Linked DNA regions of Homo sapiens: region 1 is reported to be linked to region 2. Evidence: microRNA targets listed by miRTarBase, many of them from high-throughput screens and not tested one by one. Region 2 holds a microRNA gene; the other region holds the end of a gene's coding sequence.
The links. Region 2 holds the annotated microRNA hsa-miR-6860 (ACUGGGCAGGGCUGUGGUGAGU, at 1,683-1,704, opposite strand). A microRNA usually pairs through its seed, bases 2 to 8, with sites in the 3' UTR of a target mRNA and lowers its output. Matches are read on the target gene's strand: a 7mer-m8 pairs with bases 2 to 8, a 7mer-A1 pairs with bases 2 to 7 and ends in A, and an 8mer does both.

Region 1: the mRNA of METTL27 is a reported target of hsa-miR-6860. The part of its 3' UTR that is shown has no 7-base or 8-base seed match.

Annotation. Positions count from the first base shown.
Region 1 is chr7:73,831,922-73,834,921 of GRCh38, forward strand. It overlaps METTL27 (methyltransferase like 27), which reads right to left. Exons shown (of 6, transcript NM_152559.3): 6 at 2,669-3,000. The coding sequence ends at 2,822. It overlaps CLDN4 (claudin 4), which reads left to right. Exons shown (of 1, transcript NM_001305.5): 1 at 1-769. Among named protein-coding and RNA genes, the nearest start is that of CLDN4, 2.4 kb to the left of the region's middle. RefSeq lists an enhancer at 1-166.
Region 2 is chr11:67,043,877-67,047,386 of GRCh38, reverse strand. MIR6860 (microRNA 6860) reads right to left here and starts at 1,744; the gene lies at 1,679-1,744. It overlaps SYT12 (synaptotagmin 12), which reads right to left. Exons shown (of 8, transcript NM_177963.4): 6 at 2,674-2,794; 7 at 1,510-1,643. RefSeq lists enhancers at 982-1,061, 1,162-1,291.

The sequences.
Region 1 (3,000 bases), not on the chromosome of region 2:
GGCCACTGGCTGCTGGGGACTGGGGACTGGGCAGAGACTGAGCCAGGCAGGAAGGCAGCAGCCTTCAGCCTCTCTGGCCCACTCGGACAACTTCCCAAGGCCGCCTCCTGCTAGCAAGAACAGAGTCCACCCTCCTCTGGATATTGGGGAGGGACGGAAGTGACAGGGTGTGGTGGTGGAGTGGGGAGCTGGCTTCTGCTGGCCAGGATAGCTTAACCCTGACTTTGGGATCTGCCTGCATCGGCGTTGGCCACTGTCCCCATTTACATTTTCCCCACTCTGTCTGCCTGCATCTCCTCTGTTCCGGGTAGGCCTTGATATCACCTCTGGGACTGTGCCTTGCTCACCGAAACCCGCGCCCAGGAGTATGGCTGAGGCCTTGCCCACCCACCTGCCTGGGAAGTGCAGAGTGGATGGACGGGTTTAGAGGGGAGGGGCGAAGGTGCTGTAAACAGGTTTGGGCAGTGGTGGGGGAGGGGGCCAGAGAGGCGGCTCAGGTTGCCCAGCTCTGTGGCCTCAGGACTCTCTGCCTCACCCGCTTCAGCCCAGGGCCCCTGGAGACTGATCCCCTCTGAGTCCTCTGCCCCTTCCAAGGACACTAATGAGCCTGGGAGGGTGGCAGGGAGGAGGGGACAGCTTCACCCTTGGAAGTCCTGGGGTTTTTCCTCTTCCTTCTTTGTGGTTTCTGTTTTGTAATTTAAGAAGAGCTATTCATCACTGTAATTATTATTATTTTCTACAATAAATGGGACCTGTGCACAGGAGGAAATTTTATTGTCTCTGATTTCAACTGTGGAGGTGGGTGGGGAAGGGCTGGAGGCCTGGGTGCGGGGGTGGGGGGGGTCAGTCAGGGGCAGGACCACTGTGTTTTGGCCGGGACATAAACACTTAAAAAAAAAAAAAAAAAACGAGATCCAGGGAATTGTGAAAAATTGGAGCTGGGCCGGGTGCGGTAGTGAGCACCTGCAATCCCAGCACTTTAAAAGGTCGAGGTGGGAGGATCGCTCGAGGCAGGAGTTTGAGACCAGCCTGGGGAACATAGTGGCACCATCTCTACAAAAAGTTAAAAAAATTAGCTGGGTGTGGTGGCTCATGCCTGTAATCCCTGTACTTGGGGAGGTCGAGGTAGGCGAATTGCTTGAGCCCAGGAGTTTGAGGCTGCAGTGAGCTTTGATCGCACCACTGCACTCCAGCCTGGGTGACAGGGCGAGACCTTATCTCTTAACGAAAAAAAAAAAAAAATCGAAACGGGCCTCCAAGGTATCACCTTAAAAAAGAAATTAAATGGGCCCCCAAGGTATCACCTTGTCCACTGTATATGGGTTGGAGGGTAAACCCATATACAGAAAACAGCGTATGCCCGGGACCCCGGTGAAGGGTTGGGGACCCCAGGAGGGACGTCCCCACGTGGGCTCCCAGCTCCGAGGTATGGGCCACCTGCCACCCCCACCCCGCTGTTGTTGCAGCTTTGTCTGGGCAGTCAGGCTGGTCTGTTCCTCTTTGCTGAGTCACCCTACAGGTCCCCCTTCCCAGCCTTTGCACAGCCGGTCCCTGCTTCCAGCCTGGAATGTCCCTTTTCCCTTCTCCACCCTCTGGATCCTGCTCGTCCTGAAAGCCCAGCTCCCAGCCTCCTCCCCCATGAAGTCTTCCCATTCTCTTGGATGGAGAAATTATTATCAGCCCTGTTCACATCCCTGAGGTGCTGAGGGTCACCAAATGCCTTTCACCTGGAGGGCAGCCTTCAAGCCACGCCCAGAGCTCGGCATTCTGATCCCTTGATCGATGAGGAAACCAAGTGTGGCCCAGGCCCAGACCTACAGCTTGGGATTTTGGACTCCAAATTTGGGTGGGGGAGCTGTCCAGGACAGGACTTGGGCCTCAGCAACCACTTGGGCTTGGCCTTGGCCTTGAGTCTCTGCCCTGCTACTGTTGTGCAAAGCATGTTCCAAGCTTGCTCAGGCTTCATTTTCTTGTCAGTAAGTTAGAGGTGAGCGGACCCAGCACTCTGGAAGGAGGGATCCAGGGAGGCCCCAGGAAGGGGTCTTCTCCATCATTTCTTGCTTTTTTTCTTTTCTTTTCTTTTTTTTTTTGAGACAGAGTCTTGCTCTGTTGCCCAGGCTGGAGTGCAGTGGTGTGCTCTGGGCTCACTGCAACCTCTGCCTCCCAGGCTCAAGTGATTCTCCTGTCTCAGCCTCCCAAATAGCTGGCATGCACCCACGGCACCTGGCTGATTTTTCCAATTTTTTTTTTTTTTGAGACAGAGTCTCGCTCTGTCACCCAGTGGCACCATCTCAGCTCACTGCAACCTCCGCCTCCTGGGCTCATGCAATTCTCCTGCCTCAGCCTCGCAACTAGCTGGGATTACAGGGGTGTGCTACCATGCCCAGCTAATTTTTGTATTTTTAGTAGAGACAGGGTTTCGCCATGTTGGCCAGGCTGGTCTCGAACTCCAGACCTCAAGTGATCCTCCCGCCTCGGCCTCCCAAAGTGTTAATTTTTACAATTTTTCTTTAAGATAGGGGTCTCACTATGTTGCCCAGGCTGGTTTTGAACTCGTGGTCTCAAGAGATCCTCCTGCCTTGGCCTTCCAAATTGTTGGGATTACAGGTGTGAGCCACCACACCCTGCTACGTCTCGATTCTGGAACCCACAGGAACAGATGCCACTGTTTTCTGGGAGCTCATTTAATAGGCAGGGCATTTCTGAGGGGCAGGGTTGGTTCGGAGGTCCCATTTTACAGGGGAGGCAGAGGAGGCCCAGCAGATGGGCCCAGCTAAGGCCACATGGAGTCAGGGGCCAGCTGGGGGCTGGGGGCTGGATCTCACTTCCTCAACCTGGGTCGCCTTCCACTTTCGGTACAGGTAGACAATGCCGGAGATGAAGCCATCCTTGGCAGAGATGCCGGATACCACCTCCAGCTCGGAGGTAGCCAGCTCCCAGCGGTCCACAGGCGGTCCACAGGCCAGGCCACCAGGCCTTCCCACATCCCAGCCTGCTCCA
Region 2 (3,510 bases):
CTGAGGCAGGAGAATCACTTGAACCTGGGAAGTGGAGGTTGCAGTGACCAAGATCACTCCACTGCACTCCAGCCTGGGTGACAGAGCAAGACTCTGTCTCAAAAAAAAAAAAAAAAAATTGGGGGTGGGCACAGTGGCTCACACCTGTAATCCCAGCACTTTGGAAGGCCGAAGTGGGTGGATCACCTAAGGTTGGGAGTTTAAGACCAGCCTGGCCAGCGTGGTGAAACCCCATCTCTACTAAAAATACAAAAATTAGCCAGGTGTGGTGGCAGGTGCCTGTAATCCCAGCTACTCAGGAAGCTGAGGCAGAAGAATCATTTGAACCCAGGAGGCGGAGGTTGCAGTGAGCTGAGTTCACACCATTGCACTCCAGCTTGGGCAACAGAGTGAGACTCTGTCTCAAAAAAAAAAAAATTGGTTTCTATCTCATAGGGCTGTTTCAGGAACAAAAAGAGTGAACTGTGTAGAACGGCACCTGCGCACAGTCAGAACATGCTAGAGGTTGCGTTGCTATTACTAATATCACCACGTTGCACTCACAACCGAGGACGGGAGAGACTGCTTGAGATGAGAGCGGGAGCTGAAACTCAAACCCAGCCCGATCTCTCTCCTCCTCCACTTCCCCCATGGTCCCAAGAAGTCTCTTGCTTTTAGAGGCTGTGGAGAAGTGGCACTATGACACCCAGGGAGAGGCAGAGGACACATGGGCAGCCTGCTCCACGAGGGTGGCAGGTGAAGGCTACGATACCCAGGATGGGCCAGAGATGCTGGGGTGTGCCCGGGTTAGGAACACTCAGAGTGAGGCAGATTCTGGGCCTTTACATGCTGGCGGGGTCCCCGGGTTGGGGGAGATTAGGCGGGTTCTGTACAGCCCTGGGGCTATGGAGGCAGGTTTTGGCTCAAGGCACAAAGGACTTTCTCATTGTCAGGAGTGCCGAGGAGGGCTAGAGATAGTGAGGGAAGGTGGTGCGAGCCCCATCCTCCGAGGCATGCAAGCAGGGCCCAAGCCCTATCTTCAAGCCCCACCCGTGGTCTGTGATGTCCCTGCTGGGAGAGGTCTCCCTGGAGCATGTCACCTTCTGAAGACCACGCGAACCTGGGGAGTTCAGCAGAACCCTGAAATGGAGCTTGGGAGATTCAGAGCAGGAACTCTGGGTGCCTGGCTCACCCCAGCTCCTCTCCAACCCTCTGCAGTTCCCTCCACCAGGAATGGTCCTCCCTCAGAGCTGGGTATCCCCTCCTGCAGGAATCCCCCCTCACCTGAGGACACTCTTAGTGGATTAGGGACTCTCCTGCCTGTCCCTTGTGAGCACCGAGAAAGCCATGCCTGTGTCCCCAGCACCCACCCTAGGGCTGGCCCCAGTGGCACTCAATAACTGCTAGAAAGTGATGGCTGGAGGCAAACCACTACCCCTGCAGGGGCCCTGAGAAGAGAAGGTGGAGAGATGCGGCAGCCCCAGAGCCCTGGGGTGACCTGGCCCCTTCCCATCCCCCAGCCCCCCTCACCTGGAGCACAATGGCTGGCACCGAGAAGATCATGGCTTCGTTGAACACCGGGTTGGGGTCATCCCTCTTCACGGCTGTCTTCTTTTTGCTCATCTTCCTCCCATCCTGCAGCAGGTACACCTTGACGAAGGGGTCTGTGGGCAGGCGGACAGGTGAGGGCCAGTGTCACACTCACTCACCACAGCCCTGCCCAGTTTGGCTCCACCCACCGACTCCAAACTCCCCAATGCTTAACTGTTGCTGTGACCTCCTGCAGCCCTGCCATTGGTCCTTTATTATTTTTCCCATTTCACAGATGAGAAAACTGAGGCTCACACAGCACGTCAGGTGAGGGCTGGGCTTTGTGCTCAGGCAGCTGCCTCACAGCCCACGCGCTCCCCTCCTAGGATGCTCTGGGGAACTCAGCAGCCCCACCGTGTTCCTTCTATAAATGGCCCGAGTGCAGACGTCAGCCCTGAGTCACCGGGCACCCGCACAGCAGAGCCTGACTCAACCGTGTGCGGCTCTGAAATAACAACTTGCCGTCTGCCCATCACCTATTGCCCACGGGGTGTCCTTGCCGCACCTGCCTGGAGCTGCCCCCCCCACCTACCCCCGCCCCAAGGCTTGCAACTCCCAATAGATCAGGCTCCCCCAGCCCCTGGTCTTCAGTTCTCTAGAATACAGCTGCCTCCACGGTCACTGCTTTGAGAGGGACTGGGGACTCCTGCAGACCTAAGGCATCGGGTCCTGCCTGGCACCCACCCCAACCCCGTGGCCCTGGTCCCTTTTTGGAGTCTGGGATACTGCCCTGTCTCTGGGAATGGAGTCTCCACCATGAATTCCAGTTCCAGGGAACAGATGCCCACCTTGGTTCCCTGCCCAGTGCCCCCAGCCCTGAGTGCGGCCTCCTGCCCTGAGACCCCCGCATCACTCTGACCCCCTTCACTCTGCCCTCACAGGGGCCCCTGCCACCCTCCAGGGATCTCATGTTTCCCCGGCTGGATTAATTGTCCCCATGCCACCCCCTATCCATCTGCATGACTTCTGGGCTCAGCAAAGCTGAGGGGGACCTTGGCACTGTGTCCCACACCTGCCGATGCCTCCGGGTGCCCACAGCACAGCAGCTGGGCCACAGCTTCCACTGAGCTACGTGGAGGAGCCGGGCTGCCGGCTGGGCCTTACCCGCTGTGGTCTTGTCGTTGGTCCAGATGAGGTTCTTGGCCTTAACCACGACCACGGTGAGGCGCTCGGCTGTGGGGAGGTAGCTGAGGGAGAGCAGGATCTCCCCCACAGCATCGGCGGCCTGGGGGACAGACAGGTGGCTCAGAGGGCTTCTCCCCACCCGACTTGAGGGGTCCAGGGAAAGCCTTGGTTGCCAGGGAAAGGCTGGGGCTTCCTTCTCCATAGAGAAGTGGCTGCACTGGGGGCCCCTTACCACAGGGCTCCAGGCAGGCAGGGACAGCCTGGAGAAAGGGACAGCCACCCACCCCCCGCCACTGCATGGAGCATGCCCCACTCCTCCCTTCCACCGGGAGGGTCCTGCCTGGGGCGGAGGGTCAGAGGCGGCCTGTCAAATGTAGCTATCAAATGTAGTTTCGTTCCCTCATTGCAGGCCAAGGAAAACACTGCGGTAGTAATACACAGCGATCAGAGTGGAATGGAATTAGATTCTTTGATTAAACAACAATGATGTTCTGTGAGCATTCCTACAATTATAAAACTAAAGTGCAGCTTGGTGTCTGTCTGAAATCATCCCCTCTAAGGCTAGAGGAATGTTTCTCTAGCAGAAGCTCAGTAGGGGTAGAACCTCTGAAGCTTTGGTGGCAAAGCAGCAGACGAGCTGTAAACAGTGGTCGGGATGTTTTTGAAATTTGCCTGCAGCAAGCAGTTTCCTCGGATGTGGCTCAGGTCTTCTTCTCTGCTCTCCTAATGATGATGGGGCTCAGGCTATTGCAGAGGATGATGAGGATGATGGAGTCCCTTCCTGGAAGTGTATGTGTGTGCACGCTCTTCCGAGGT